Regions from separate parts of the Homo sapiens genome. Here region 2 is linked to region 1. The links come from fine-mapping of genetic effects on plasma protein levels. A gene starts in region 1. The other region holds a variant in brackets. All regions are shown on one strand. Distances are from middle to middle. Region 1 holds the start of MATN3 (matrilin 3). Region 2 overlaps WDR35 (WD repeat domain 35).

The links. A credible set is the group of variants that fine-mapping cannot tell apart. PIP is the chance, under the fine-mapping model, that this variant and not a neighbour inherited with it causes the effect. Protein levels are from antibody-based Olink assays in UK Biobank. Linkage for the fine-mapping came from a reference panel and not from the study's own genotypes, which makes the PIPs less certain.
Region 2: its variant is the best candidate, but not a certain one, in a credible set for the plasma level of the MATN3 protein (UK Biobank, PIP 0.58).

What each region holds. Positions count from the first base shown.
Region 1 is chr2:20,007,802-20,016,331 of GRCh38, reverse strand. It overlaps MATN3 (matrilin 3), which reads left to right and starts at 3,664. Exons shown (of 8, transcript NM_002381.5): 1 at 3,664-3,923. The coding sequence starts at 3,701. RefSeq lists an enhancer at 3,948-4,560.
Region 2 is chr2:19,938,430-19,946,251 of GRCh38, reverse strand. It overlaps WDR35 (WD repeat domain 35), which reads left to right. Exons shown (of 27, transcript NM_020779.4): 16 at 256-466; 17 at 4,413-4,493. Among named protein-coding and RNA genes, the nearest start is that of TTC32, 40 kb to the right of the region's middle. The variant C/A (reference allele first, on the strand shown) is at 5,190.

The sequences.
Region 1 (8,530 bases):
CAAGATGTTGAATTTATTGCTTGTAAGAAGTAATGCAAAGTTGAAAGTAATCCTAACATTTGGTCGGTTTCTTTTTTCTTTTCAAAGTTTAGACCAAGTGCATGTATTACCTACTTTAAAAATAATAAAATTCTAAAAACAATGTAAAGTGTATATATAAATCTTTGTTGTATTTCTTAGATTTTTGAATAGTTCAAAAAACCTCTGTTTGGCTTTTTTATGACCTAAGTCTTTAGGTTATCAAAAAGTTATTCTAGTCTTTATCTTGACAAAGTAGTATAAGATAATATGCAGTGGTAGAGAAATATAGCTTTTGCAATATTCCCAAGTAAACACCTGAAAGCAAAGTTACCACCTGGTCCAGCAGCCAGTTGAGTTGGTGACATGCAAGAAGGCCCTACAGCCACCTGAATTCCTCTGTCAGAAGAGCTACCTTTGTTTTATTTGACAATCTTTGGACATCAGATGTAAGACAACCGCCCTGGAGTGTGAACTCTGGAGATACAAACTTATCAGACAATTTCTATTTCATTCAAGATGGCATGACTTTCATACACCAGCATCTGAAATTGTCTGAGATACTGACAACGAATGTGTAGGGACATTCACCAGGGAGCTGAGATTTTTATTTTGAGCTCTTTAAAACAGTGCCCCCCAGTGGTATGCAATAGAAAAAAAAAATCACAAGATTAATATATCCACATTGTTGGTGCAAACAGAACCCATTCCTGCTAGAATGAGCTGAAAAAGAGGCTAAGCATGGTGGCTCACATGTATAATCCTAGCACTTTGGCAAGCTGAGGTGGGAGGATCACTTGAGCCCAGGAGTTCAAGATCAGCCTGGGCAACATAATTAGACCCTGTCTCTATAAAGAATAAAAAAAAATTAGTTGGGCGTGGTGGTGCACACCTGTGGTCCCAGCAACTCGGGAGGCTGAGGCAGGAGGATTGCTTGAACCTGGAGGATTGCTTGAGCCCAGAAAGTTGAGGTTGCAGTGAGCTCTGATGACACCATTGCACTCCAGCCTGGGTGACAGAATGAGACCCTGTTTATAATAATAATAATAAAGAAACAGAAAAAGTATATATTAAGGGTATTATTTGTCCCACTACTAGCTCAAAGTACAAATGGAAAAGCCAACCATTCCTCAAGAAACATCACTCCCCAGTTGAAGTGGAATTCCAAATGTTATAATCAATATGTGTTGACTACGAATGTGAATAGTGCCCCTGTGAACTTGTGCAATGTACACCTACACCATCCATATGTAGCCCTGGATATTAAGTGGTTCAAATAATTTCTGGAAAGGTTCAAGAATCAAGCTTGGAAGCCACACAGTCATCAACCATTCCCAAAATTATACTGCAGGTTTGCTATATGGGAGACCTAGAGTCACTGCTGCTTGGCATAGACACCACATATGATCGATGAAGACTGGGCCACTTATGTACATCCTAGCTGCAAGAGATGCTGGGGAAGCAAGTTCTTGGAGTCAACTTGGGGAGGTGCTGACTCATGAAGTTGGAAATCCCTAAATTTAGGAAGGTATTTGTGATGGTGAATTTTAATGTGTCATCTTGACTGGGCTAATGGATGCCCAGATAGCTATTAAATATTATTTCTGGGTGTGTCTGTGAGGATGTTTCTGGAAGAGATTAGCATTTGAATCGGTAGACTGAGCAAAGAAGATCACCTTCATCTATGTGAGTGGAGTGGGCATCATCCAATCTGTTGAGGGCTTGAATGGAGCAAAAAGACAGTGGAAGGCAAATGTGTTCTCTGCTGGAGCTGGGCCAACCAGCTTCTCCTGTCCTTGGACATCAGCATTCCTGGTTCTTGGGTCTCTGGACTCAGATTGGGCCTTATGTCATTGGCTCTCCTGCTCTTGGGCCTTCAGGCTTGGACTGGATTACACCACTGGCTTTCCTGGGCCCCCAGCTTGCAGACAGCAGACTGTGGGACTTCTCAGCCTTCATAATCGCATGAACCAATCCCTCATAATCTCAATTACTCCCCCCACCCTCTCTCTATATGTATGTGTATATAAAATTTATTGGTTTTGTTTCTCTCAAGAACCCTGACTAATGTAGGGTTCAAAGGCTTTGGGGATCATTCTAAAAGCAAGACGAAAGACAAATGTCCACCAGAGCTTGCAAATACTGTATTTATCAATCCCTCCTCTTCTTGGCATAGTTTCTTTCAAACTTCTTAGTGTCCTCTTCCCATTATTACAAACTTCTCGTTTCTTCTAAGGTCCTTCTAAATTGGTGAGTTCTCAGTGGGAGTTGAGTGACCTTTTCCCTCAGTGTGACTATCACTGCCCAATGTCATTGATACATTATACAACTCCCCATCCCCACTTCCCCTCAGCTCCTGTTAACCACCATTCTTTCTGTCTCTATGAATTTGACTACTCTAGATTCCCCATGTAAATGGAATCATACAGTATTTGTCTTTTTGTGACTAGCTTATTTCACTTAACATAATACTCTCAAGGTTCATCCATTTTGTAGCATCTGCCAAAATTTCCTCCCTTTTAAGGCTGAACAGTATTCCATTGTACGTAGATACTGCATTTTGCTTTTCCATTCACACAAAGAGAGACACTTGGGTTGTTTCCGCCTCTTGGCTATTGTGTATAATGCTGCTACCAGCATGGGGTACAAATATGAGAAGTGAGGTTTAGGATCGTGTGAGGAGGATCACTTGTAGAGGGAAAATAGTGAAATAGGACGACCAGATAGGCTCTGTTGGAACTCGCGCCCATTGTTTTAAGACGCAGCTCAAATGTCACCTGGTTTTAGAAGTCTTCCTGGTCTCCGCAGGCAGTCAGTATCTCTTTCCTAAATCCACCACATTCCCGTAGACAGACACCACATTTATGCAAATCTCCTTCTCACAGACAGTGAGTTCCATGGGGGTCCCCTGGCAGCCTCCAGCCCTGTACCATGCTAACTCTTCCGGAGAGGAAATGGGGCCTCGGGAGAGCCTTTGAAGCCTGTGTTGGTACAGGCTGTCCTTCCAGCTAACGGGGCTCTCTGGGGAATGTATGTTTGACTTTCTATTCCCGGTAATATAAGTTCAAATGTTTGTGGATATTTGAAGCTCGGATGAAAGCGTTTCTATTCATGCCCCTAGAATCTGTGAGGCCTTTTCTTTCTTTTTTTTTTTTTAAACAAGAGCCCACAGCAAAACTTGGGTTACTTGGCTGAGGAAAGGAATGTAGAGCTAGGAGCAGGGTTTCATCTTCAGCCCCAGTCGGGCAAACCAGTGGCAGAAGGGAAAGCAGAGCCCAGGGGTCCCCATCCCGTACCTGGGGCGCAGGCCCCGCTGGGGTGGGAGGGAGAGTGGAGGGCCGGGCAGGCTGCAGCCGCGGATGGCTGCCCCCCCTGCCCCGGTGTTACTGGGAGGACGGAGGTTGCGACAGCAGCCGAGCCCACCCAGTTGCAGCCGGCTCGGGGCTTAGGGCAGGGGCGGGAGGTGACCACCGCGCCGCTGGCCGCCTCGCCCAGACATTCCGTTTCTGCCGCTGGAATGCGCGGACAAGGCTCCTTGTTGGCCTTGGGCGGGGTTCGCCGGGCCGGCCTGGCGCTCGAGGCCCCGGGGCGGGGCGGGGCCCGAGGCCGCGGGACCTTTAAATCCGAGCCTCGCGTGGGCTCCTGGCCCCCGACGGACACCACCAGGCCCACGGAGCCCACCATGCCGCGCCCGGCCCCCGCGCGCCGCCTCCCGGGACTCCTCCTGCTGCTCTGGCCGCTGCTGCTGCTGCCCTCCGCCGCCCCCGACCCCGTGGCCCGCCCGGGCTTCCGGAGGCTGGAGACCCGAGGTCCCGGGGGCAGCCCTGGACGCCGCCCCTCTCCTGCGGCTCCCGACGGCGCGCCCGCTTCCGGGACCAGCGAGCCTGGCCGCGCCCGCGGTGCAGGTACAGGCGGGCGGCGGGAGGGACGCGTGAGCATCGAACGAGGAGAAGCCCAGGGCATCCACCAAGCGCGCTTCATCCCGGCCTCAGGCCGACCGTGGTGCGGGGGAAAGAGGCCCCTCCCGGATGAATCCTGTGGGGGAAACTGAGGTCCAGAGAAGGGGAGGGAGATGCCCAATATCACTCATGTGTCCAGGCTAGAGATGTGGGTCTCCTGAAGCTCTCACTCCCCTGTGATTCGGCCAGGAGCACAGGGCAGCTGGGGAGCGCAGGGGCTGCTGCCCAGCGGCTGCTGCTAAGCTCCGTCCCAGTCCTGACCTCTCCATTCAGTGAGCAAACCCTTCCTGAGACTCTGCTGTTAGTTCTCTTGGAATCTCTCCATCTCCATCCAATATCAGGGCGTGATCTTTCCTCCCCTCCCACAGTCCTCAGGCTGCCTCAGACTGGAAGGTAAGGGATGCGGGTGTGAGACCAGGAGGAGATCCGAGGAGCCGTAGGATACCCCAGGATCAAGACACTCTGGGTCTTTGGCGAACAATTCTATTTCTCTTTTTGGTCAGCAATTGATTCCTGAAGCAGAGCAAAGCTCATAGTGCAGCGAAGCGGGCAGGTCGTCTGACACAGCCCCTGACAGCACATGAAGGGAAACTGAGGCATATCAAGTTGAAGGGACTCTGTGAATCAGTATCAGAGGCCACAATAAAATTCAGGGCTCCGAAATCCCAAGCAAGGTCTCTTTCCACTGCCCCAGCCTACCAACCTCTTAATATGGTTTACATAAGATTGTATCTTCATTTCCAAAAAGCGCAGCTTCAGTCTTGCTAAAAAGAGTCTGTGCCAGGCCATTTCTGGGTATGCAGTCTCATTTGGCCAGCCACGCTGCATGCCTCAGGCTGATTTCAATTGTCTATCCCCTTCTGCATCTTTCTGGATAAGCTGAGAAGGAGCTCAAGGGACTCTTTCCTGACTCAAATACTCAGTCCCCGTATTTGAAGTGGCAGATTTGAAATGGCAAAAGCATTGCTGCTAAGGCAGGAGGTACCGGGGTCCACAGGGCTAGATTCAGCTGGTGGCTGGTTGCTCCAGGCCGGGAATTGAGGGAAAGCCTTTCTTCTGGAAGTTAATCTTACTCTAGTCCTGACCTGCCTCCCTCTGGGATGGGACTGGAAGAGGAAGGAGAGATTCAGCACCAGGTGGCCATGTCCCCCTAAGCTTTACTGGTCTTTCATTACCTAGAGTCCGAACCTGATCATGAATGATAACCCATTAATAAATGCGAGATTCCACCCTGTTCCAAATTATCTCCTTTTAGCAACCAGAAATTGCTAAGCTTCGCTATGGATTTTTATTTCTAGCAGGACTGTAAGGACTCAGTGGTATTATGAGTATGGGAACATTTTAGGAGATTCAGATTCTTTCTTTGTTCTTGGGAATCAAATTGCTGCTATTTAGTAAATGGGAGTGAGATTCAAAAACAACTAATGATTGATGCGGAGTACCAGTCAGGAAGGAACCAGATGTTCACAGAATTTTCTGCCACCATGGTCAAGCCTCAGGTATTAGTTTTCTATGGCCACTGTAACAAATTACTGTGAATTTAGTGCCTTAAGACAACACACATTTATTACCTGAGAGTTCTGTGGGTCAGAAGTCTGACCCTGGTCTCACTGGGCTAAGATGAAGGTGTCGGCAGGGCTGTGTTCCTTTTGGGAGGCTCTAGGGGAGACTGCATTTCCCTTCCCTTTCCACCGCATGAAGGCTGCTGAGTTCCTTGGCTTATGGCCTTTTTCTTCCATTTTCAGAGCCAGCTAAAGCAGGTTGAGGCCTTCTCCCATTGAGTTACTCACATTTCTTTCATCTGCCTCCCTCTTCTACTTTATAATTACATTGACTCACTGAATAATCCAGGATAACCTCTTGTGTAGAGCTCTTTGACTTAATCACACCTGCAAAGTCTCTGCTCTTTGCCACGTAAAAGTAACATGTCTCTGGAATTAGGACGTGGACGTCTTTGGCGGGGGACATTATTCTGCATACCACACCCCGAATAGAGGATTCGGTGTGAATAACCAAGTGGAGAAGGAAAGAATCATGCACGTTTAGTTATAAGAACATAGCCATGATATTTATAAGGACACCATTTGGGTGCTGGTGAAAGCACTGTCAATTACAGAGTTCATATCTTCATGTTACCCCCACCTTTTCTTTTTCTAATTATACAAAAATACTTTGACCCATCTCCAGGAAAGATTTTCAACATAATTCTTCTTCCTAGCTCTAGATCTATGGGACTTTCCAGGAATGAAGTAAAATTCTGGAGGTTTTTTTTTTTTTTTTTTTTTTTAGTATTTGAAGAGATTTATTCTGAGACAAACATGAGTGACCATGGTCTGTGACACAGCCCTCAAGAGGTCCTGAGTACATGTGCTCAAGATGGTCAGGGTGCAGCTTGTTTTTATACAATTTAAGGAGGTATGAGACATCAATCAAATACATTTAAGAAATACATTGGTTTGGTCCTAAAAGGTGGGACAACTCAAAGCCGGTGGTGGTGAGGGGCTTCCAGGCTATAGGTAAGTTTAAATATTTTCTGGTTGATAATTGGTTGCATTTGCCTAAAGACCTGGGATCCATAGAAAGGAAATGTTCAGGTTAAGATAAAAGACTGTAAAGACCAATGTTCTTTTGAAGTCTTATAGTGGCTACCCTTAGAGACAATAGATGACAAATGTTTCCTATTCAGATCTTTTTAAAAAATTATTATTATTTTACTTTAAGTTCTGGGATACATGTGCAGAATGTGCAGGTTTGTTACATAGGGATACATGTGCGCTGGTGGTTTGCTGCACCCATCAACCCATCATCTAGGTTTTAAGCCCCACATAGATTAGGTATTTGTCCTAATGCTCTCCCTCCTCTTGCCCCCCACCCCCTGACAGGCGCTGGTGTGTGATGTTCCCCTCCCTATGTCCATGAGTTCTCATTGTTCAACTCCCACTTATGAGTGAGAACATGTGGTGTCTGGTTTTCTGTTCCTGTGTCAGTTTGCTGAGAATGACGGCTTCCAGCTTCATCCATGTCCCTGCAAAGGACATGGACTCATTCTTTTTTATGGCTGCTGGAGTTGTTTTTTTTTTTTTTAAAGAAAGAAAGAATTTTGATTCCTTTTTTTTTTTTTTGGCTTTTAGAGACTGGGTCTCATTCTATCATCCAGGCTGGAGTGCAGTGGTGTGATTGTGGCTCACTGCAGCCTTGACTCTCTAGCTTTAAGCGATCCTCCTGCCTCAGCCCCCTAAGCAGCTGGGACTACAGGTGCCTGCCACCATGCCTGGCTAATTTTTAAACTTTTTATAGAGATGAGGTCTCCCTATGTTGCCCAGGCTGGTCTAGAACTCCGGAGCTCAAGTGATCCTTCTCCCTCAGCCTCTCGAAGTGTTGGGATTACAGGCGTGAGCCACTGCGCCTGGGTTTAATTCCTTTTGACTTAACTAAATGCATGACATACAGCATATTTCAGGGCGGTGACTTAAAGTCAACAAGCAGGATGTTTACTGAATACATGAGAGAATGTTGATTTTTGTGGAGGAAAATGTTGCCTCAGAGAGAGGTAACTGGGATTCAGTAGCAAGCTCCCAGGGACTGGGAGTCAGGAAACCTGGAGTCCAATCCATGCTCTACCACTTTCTAGTTCTCACACCTCCTTGAACCTCAGGTTTCTCACCTGTAAAATGAATATAAAAACCACCTCTGCACCTCCAGCCTCACAGGTTGATGTGTTGGTACCTTGCGATTCCTAAAGTGTTACTGAAAGGAAGATTTTCTTTTTGTTAATTAAATACCTCCAAGCAGCAGGCTAAAAACAAGAAGATAATTTTCTGCTTTTAAAAGAAAACTAGACAGAGACATAAGGTAGGCTGTTCCAGGTAAGGCTTTAATTTTTTTCTATAAACTGCTTAGTCTAGGCATTAATTTTGAATCACCTTTTTTTCCTACTAAGTATTACCTTCCTAGAGTAGCATCAACTTCTGCCTCCTTATTAGGAAAGGAAAGAGCCTTGAGTGACACTTCATGCCCCAGGACCTCATTTCCATTTAGGGCTGCATGCGTGTGTTGGGTGAGAAGGGGGAATGACTTGAAAAAGAAGTTTAGGGCTGGGCACAGTGGCTCACACCTATAATCCCAGCACTCTGGGAGGCCAAGGTGGGAGGATCACCTGAGGTTGGGAGTTTGAGCCCAGCCTGGCCAACATAGTGAAACCCCGTCTCTATGAAAAATACAAAAATTAGCTGGGTGTGGTGGCGCACACCTGTAGTCCCAGCTACTCAGGAGGCTGAGGCAGGAGAACTGCTTGAACCCAGGAGGTGGTGGTTGCAGTGAGCCAAGATTGCACCACCGCACTCCAGCCTGGGTGACAGAATGAGACTCCGTCTCAAAAAAAAGAAAAAGAAGTTTAATAATTGGCTTTTTTTCTTGTCTCATCCTGACTTGTGGATTTGATTTTTGTATCGAGGAGAGAGGGTGTGCAAACAGGGGTTGGGGGAAACAGGAAAGAACAGGAAAGAATAGATGAACACTAAAATGTACTGTGATACTAAACTGTTAGGTACTTT
Region 2 (7,822 bases), 70 kb after region 1:
TAAAAGCATTGAGACTATTTTATATTTCATACCAATTGGTTTTGTCTCTGGATACATTTTCCTCAGAAGAGAGCAAAATAGAGAGTAGTCCATATCTTGTATCAAATTTATTTAACAAAATTTTAAGCCATTTCTACTGTATTCCAGGTTTCTGATAATCTGATTTTGAAGAAGAATGGCTATAGGTAATTATTCTCATGATTGCTGATAGTAATTTTATAGTTTTTTCCTTTTCTCTAATTGCATTGTTTTTAGCCGTCTTGCTATCATAGACATCTCAGGAGTTCTGACTTTCTTTGACTTGGATGCTCGAGTAACGGACAGTACGGGACAGCAAGTAGTTGGAGAGTTGTTAAAATTGGAACGAAGAGATGTCTGGGATATGAAGTGGGCCAAAGATAATCCTGATTTGTTTGCAATGATGGAGAAGACAAGAATGTATGTTTTCAGAAACTTGGATCCTGAGGTAAAAACAAGAAATGAGTGTTAACAGTCTATAAATAATGAGCCAAATATAAAAACCTGGATGATTCCCCTTTGTTTCTTTAAGAAGTTTGTTGAATAGCAGTGCCAACACGGCTGCATGAATTTCTGAAAATAAATAGGAACATTTCTGTGGATTTTAAAAATATTTGGTCTTAGGTGAGAAAATACTTATCTATTAAATATTCTCTACTTTCTCTGAAAGGTACTTCCTAGGCATTTATTTATCTGTTCTTTTTAAAAGGTGGAGCCATGGTCACTAGTCTTTTTTTCCCTTGTCAAACTTAAGAAAACAAAATCAGTAGCCTTATTTACCAGAATTTCTGAAAAGAACCTAATAAAAAAATATAGTTTTCAAATTTCCTTGTCCATTCATTCTTTTCTGTCTCTTTATTCACTTAATTCTGTGCTTACTTTGTCTTATTTATATTTACATTTACCATATCGTTCACAAATCTGTGTTCTTTCTTAACCCAGATATTCTTACAAATATGCAAGTGCAGGCAGGGATTAATCTCTCTTTTGGGTATGAGGAAGTCCCCTTTGTTCTCATTTTTAAGGTTACATTTTGATTTTCTGCTTGTGGCTCACATCAGCTAATTTCTATGCTCTGGATTTTCCTGTCACTTAGTCTACTCTGGCCAACTCTCAGCTGTTGTATTTAGGAAATACAAAATAATCCGAGTGGTAACCTAATCAAAACATCATTAAGAAGATAAATCTTTTAAATGACTTTTGAATTAGTAATGGATTTTCAATTTGGAATTTTCTGTACTTCTGCTGCACTCTACTCTTGTAAATAATAAGGAATAAGTTAATAAATGCTTTATATCATTAATTTCCATTTGTTTGCATGTATAGCTTCCTTCTTGGGAAGAAATTGCATGCTTGGGCCCCTGAGCTGCCAAAGGGTTTCTGGAGTAATTTATTTAGTGGTAAACTGTTTGCCCCTTTAATATCCTAAATTATTTTCACATTTCCCCATTTGAGCCCTACTCAGGAATTTTGGATGTAAAATGCCCTGATGTAAAGTGCTCTCAAAGGCTCTGTTAAAGCTTTTGCAAGTCTTAGGATCTTTGTGATTCTTCGACCCTGAGAAATAGTTCAAAGGAAAGGCATTCAGATTCAGGGCTGCTGCATTTGACCTGTAAGCATGGGCTTCTTTCAAGGGTCCAAGGGAAATTTAATCCTTGCCACAAAACAATTGTGGGAATTTGACAGGTAATCCACAGGATAACCTTGAGGATGGGAGTAGAATACTTTTTGAATGTTAGAGTCTTTTTCTATCCTTAGCCCTGCTCATACTAAATCACAAATCATATGCCTGGAGAAGGGAGAATGTTTGTTGTATCTGGCTGCTCATAATGTGTCTATAGCACACATGGTCAGTCTGGTACCAAGTGAAATCTTTGCCTGGTGGAAAGAGTTTCTTAAGTAGTTTTAACAGAACAGCCTTTTAAAAACATACTGTTTTTTAATTTGAATTTGTTTTCTGGTTTGGCATGTAGTTCGATTTCTGTTAGATTTAGAGCTAGATGGATTTCTTAAAACCTTCCCACTGTCTGGATTTCTTTATAAATGATGCTGTTCTGTTCTTTTCATTCACAAGGACACTGGCTTACTGTGGTCGCAGCTGGTTTAGCTACTCTGCTCATTTGCTTTTCTAGCTGCTTATTGATCATGTAAGAACATGATCTCTTCAAAGCAGGGAAGATCTGTTTTACATACTATTATATTTAATAGTATGTTCCTTAAGGACATAATATTCTATATTATTATTTAGGAGATAAGTTATTGTTTGACAGCTAATAACAATATATTTTTATCCATTTGAGTGTTGTTAAGAATTCTAGATTCATACCTTTATCTAAGCTGTAAATCTTCAGATTATTTGAGAGAAAAAGATGCCATCTGTGTGCAAAGTTTTAATTCACTGATAAAGCACATTTTCTTTGAGAATTAGGAGATGAATATTTAATGTTGATATTCCCTGCTTGATCATTTTCATCTCCAGTGACCCTCTGAAGGTACTGATTGCGCTGTTTTGTTCTTTTTCTTGGCTCTTCCTTCTCATTGGCACTACAATTTCATTTCATGTTTCTTTCATATCTCATAATTTCATCAATCAGACTCATTTTTGTACATTTGCTTCTTTTTCAAACAAGGGGCTCCCAAACTTTTGAATATATGCTCTTATATATACATATTTATTTAGAAATTATTTACATGACCTACCATATTAATATATTATGAATCAAAATAGAAATTTTAAAAGAATGAGAAAAATAAATTATACTGGATGACATAACTTTATTTTTTTAAGTCATGCTAATTGCTATGGTTCATGCTAATGCTACATTAGCTAGTATATCAGCATAATGCACATTTTAGAGCAAGGTTTTGTTAACTTAGTTGATAAAAGTCTCATGTGTCAAATACTCTACTTGATAACTTTGACCTTTTAGCTGACTTTTGGTCAGACCTGATAGGATTGTCATTGTTTTCACGTTGTAATGTGACTGATACAAGAATCTGTGCTAGGAGTAAGAGAGGTGTCAGTTCTGCCTTTTCTTGTTTGCTTGTGCTTGCATTATTAATATTACTTTTAATTTACAAGTTCTTTGCAAGAAGCTTTTTAAGCCATTTGTCCAGTTTGTGAGAGTTAGCTAAAATTAGGTAATACAATCCCTCAATTCACTTAGTTAGGTATATGCAAACCTCAGTATATCACAATATGCTAAAATTGTAGGACAAATAAGGGTACTTCAGGACACTCATTATATGGCACATATTATGAGGCCTTCTGACTTGTGTGCTGGATAAGGGTGCCAATATTTTGTTTGGTGTAGTATAGATTATTAAAGCTTTGGTTACTTTTTTGATAAAAAGAATTATCTTGCATACTGGTTAGGTGAGACCCTGCTGGTCTGAAACTTCATATTTAAATGAAGTGTGTGGATAGATAGCTAATGAATTTTGGAAACTAAAGAAAATTGGTTAATTCCAGCAGAAGTTGAATTTTTAAAATCTGAATTACATAAATGTATTTACTTATGCATTAATAATCAGATTATTTTTCAAACTTTTATTTTTTGATCTCTCTTTCCATCTTTCTCCCTTTCTCTTTGGTAGTATTTTTTTTTTCATGGATCAACTTTTGTGAGTTTATCTTTTGATTATCTTGTTTTGTTGCACTGTCTTGCCAAAAATAAAAAAAAAATTTCTAATGATAAACATGTTTATACAAGGATCTAGGGCAGCTACTTTATAATATGCATATCCTATTCTTTATTTCAACAAGCCTGTATAACACTAAGATAAGAGACAGACATATAACAGTCTCATGCACTTACATATTGGCAAATAAATCTTCTTAAGAGTAGGAGATATATCAGGAATGCACTCTGGCTCATGTTACAGAGGAGAGACTGTTCAGTGTGGTATGGGATTTCTTTGATAGATGGGCTTACATACAAATATAGTGTTTATCAGCTTTATGAAGAATTAACTTTAATATTGAATTGCATGAATTAGAATTTTCAAGCTATATGACTTTTTATTAATTGAGAAAATTGGACTGAATATTACATGCTATTAGGGAATTAACATTAATTATGTAAGGTGTGATCATAGTAATGTGGCCATGTAAGAGAAAATTCTTATGTTTTAAAGATATGTACTGCAGTATTTAGGGATAAAATATCATGATGTCCGTAATTTACTGTATTTACTTTACAATACTTCAGCCAAGAAGTTAAAGGAAGCATATTTACCATAATGCTAATTATTTAGGTTATGGGTATATGGGTGTTAATGACATTCTCTCTTTTGTTTACCTGAAAACTCTGATAATAAAATTTAAAAGCATGATTTGTTAAAAGAGAGGAAATTTTGCATAATGAAACATAACTTTTTTTTTGTCTTTAAAGGAACCCATTCAGACCTCTGGATATATTTGTAATTTTGAGGATTTAGAAATTAAATCTGTTCTTTTGGATGAGATATTAAAGGTAATTCCTAAAAAGTTACATTTCTGTTGCTAGCTTGACAGGGGATTATTTCTGGACCAGGCGGTGTAGTATCCTGGTTAGCAGTGTGGACCCAGGAGTCAGATATATCTCAGGCCCAGCCCTGCTCTCTTATTGTTCAGCCTTTAGGTGGGTGCCACCATCTTTTTGAGCTTCACTTTACTTTCCTGTAAAATGATGATAAAAATGTATAAGTCTCAGTTATTGCCTTTATAAAATACAGATAATAATACTACTTATAGGATTGTTATTATATAAGATAATGTGTGAAAAGCAATTAGCACAATGCTACGGCCAAGTGAGAGCTAAAAAAAATGAGTGCTAATTGTTGTCATTGTTTTTGTAGTAATAACGAGGTACTGAAGAAATATTTAAGAGTTTAGCCTTTTTCTAGTTCTAAGATACTTGAGTAACTTTTTTTTAGAGATCTATCTTTCCATTTTTTCCAGGTTTTGTAAAATAATCCTTTTTTCTCTTTTTAAATTCAAGACATGATTTTGAACCCCTGCATTGGCCTACATTGACCATCCTTTGAGAATTTTTTTTCTCTAAGAATATACTGAGAGAAGTTTTACCTTCATTTTAGCCAAAGCATTAACTTTTTCTATGTAATATATATATAGTTTTTGAATTGAGATAGTAGATTTAAAATTTCCAGAAGTTAGTGGCAATTTGGAA[C/A]AGGTTTGGGTTTGATATGTAAATCATATTTGGGTTTGATATGTAAATTATGGCTATTTTATTGTGAGCCAGTTTCATTTTCTATATCATAACCACCATGCAGCAATGGGATGGGCCCCCACCCAAAATTTGGTTTGGATGTAAAGATTGATGATACCATAGGGACACCAGGAATGTATCTTCCATAATGAAACTTTTAGGGGAGAGAAGGGCAGGCTTCCCAAGCTGTCAGAAATGGCTGGACAGCACAGGGAAAGGAGACTGGCTTGAGGGTGTTTTTGTTGTTGTTTTGTTGTTTAGTAGTTAGGGAGTGGGTCTGGGGTGAGGCTTTTAATGGATAGGGGCTTATGTGGTTTGAAACTCACTGGTGCCCCAAAGGAAGAAGCATCTGGGCTTTCTCATTAGCTTGCCCCATGTGAGGCAGAGGGGAAGAGGGAGAGGTGAGGTTTAAAAGCTGTCAGCAGCCAACCATCAAAAATGGAGTCTGGGCTGTTATTACCTAGGATTATGTAACCTCCAGATTTGACTATCTGACTCTTCTGTATATGGATAGCACTTTTCTTGTCCTTGTTTAAGGTATATGACTTGTAAAACTAATGAACTTATTTCATTGCCCGTTTAACTTGAATACAGTACCACCAGATAATATTTTTTCCTTTTCCACACGTGTGAAGAAAGATATCTATTGTTTTTTTTTCAGCAGGGTTTCTCTCTGTTGCCCAGGCTGGAGTGCAGTGGTGCCATCATGGCTCACTGTAGCCTCTGCCCCCCAGGCTCAAGTGATCCTCCCATCTCAGCCTCCTGAGTAGCTGGGGTCCCAGGCACAGGCCGCCATGCTTGGCTAATTTTTTGTGTTTTTTTTTTTTTTTTTTTGTAGAGATGGGGTTTGCCATGTTGGTCAAGGGTGGTCTTGAACTCCTGGGCTCAAGTGAAACTCTCATTTTGCCCTCCCAAAATGTTAGGATTACAGGCGTGAGCCACCATGCCCAGCCAGAAGATGTCTTTCTGCTTGTCTTCTTTCCCAAGAGATTTAGGGAAAGAAGACATTATTTATTTATTTCTTTTTTTTTTATTTTGAATATGTGGTTCTTCCAGGGCCCTTTAAAAAGACAGTCATAAGTGGGTAGAATCAAACTAAGGTGACTGAAATATTTTGTCTGCTTTTATATATTTAATGGTTTGATAAAGAGTGAGCTTCTTGAATCCCTAACATTTAGCAAGGATCTGATACAGAGTTGGTTTTCAGAAAGTGTTGGTTAAATTGATTTTTAAAAATGAATACTTTACTGCTTTTAAACAAATGGCAGAATTATATAGAATTCAAGCAAAACAGAAAAGTACTGAAACAAGTTAAAAAAAAACCCTAAATCCCACAACTCAGATATTTTAGTCACTACCGTTAAACATCAGAACATCATTCCTTACAGCTGCAAGTTATATATGGAAATATGGATTTGATAGATTTAGATAGATGAACAGAAGTAATTTTATAAAAATGACATCATTGTACAATCTACTTTTTTAGTGTTAATTTAATTAGATAACCTGAAAGTGAGTTTAAAGGAATTCTAGACTTTTAGATAATATTTTTCCACTGCAAAGAATACCATTTTCCTGGGTTGAGAAGAAAAATTATGAAAAACCAGGTAGTTATTAGTTTAAATTATATTTTAATTTTTAATAGTATTGTCTTTCTACTCTAAAAGATAACATTCTTACATTTTCTTCTTTTTCTCCTTTTGTAGATATATTATTTTTACATTGTCAAGATTTAGAACATTTAAATTTCGTCTTGTAATCCTAATTTCCAGTTGTTTAGTCTTAATAGTTAAATGAATTCAAAGCTATTAGCCAGGCTTTTTACTACATTTTCTCCTTACGTAAGTTCTTAATTTTGATTAATCTTTTAGTTGGCTGGATTTCATTGTTAGTAGTGTTTTTCAAGAAAGGCTCATAATTTCCGATTGCCTTAAGCTCTAGAATGTGTGAAAATGCCTGTGGTGTTGTTGCTGTAATTGATGATTATATTGAATTTTGTGAAGTTTTTTAGATAAAGAAGGCTCTCAGTGGTAAAATGATTTACCTAAAGTTCATCTATTCATTAATTCAGCAACTATTAATTAACAGCCAATAAGACACAGTTCTTGGCCTCAGGTAGAGGAGTTGAGGAGATGGATAAGTAATTCAGTTGCCAGAAAAGAGTTAGGGGTGCTGTGATTCAGTCAGGATGGTACACCTGTTCAAAATTCTGAAGCAGGAGAGCATTAGGTCAGTTCTGAGATGATGAATATTGAATACCGTAAATAGTACAGCTAGGCATTGTGCTGAATCTTTGAGACATGTTATCTCATTTAAGGTGAAAAACCAATCTGAGCAGAGGGAAACAGGGATGCATAACTGTGAGGGACCCCTTCTGCCATTTTCCTCTGTCCCCTTTTCCTCATAGGCCGCCTGATTGCCTCAGAGGTACTTACTTGTGGGTTTTGGTGTTTTCCAGATAACTCAAAAGACCCAAACGTGAAGATTTCTCTTCCTTATTTTGCTCACAATATGATGCCGTTTTTTTTCTTGTTTTGTTTTGTTCTGGTTTTTAATATAAAAAAGAAACACATACTCTAACGGCAAATATTTGA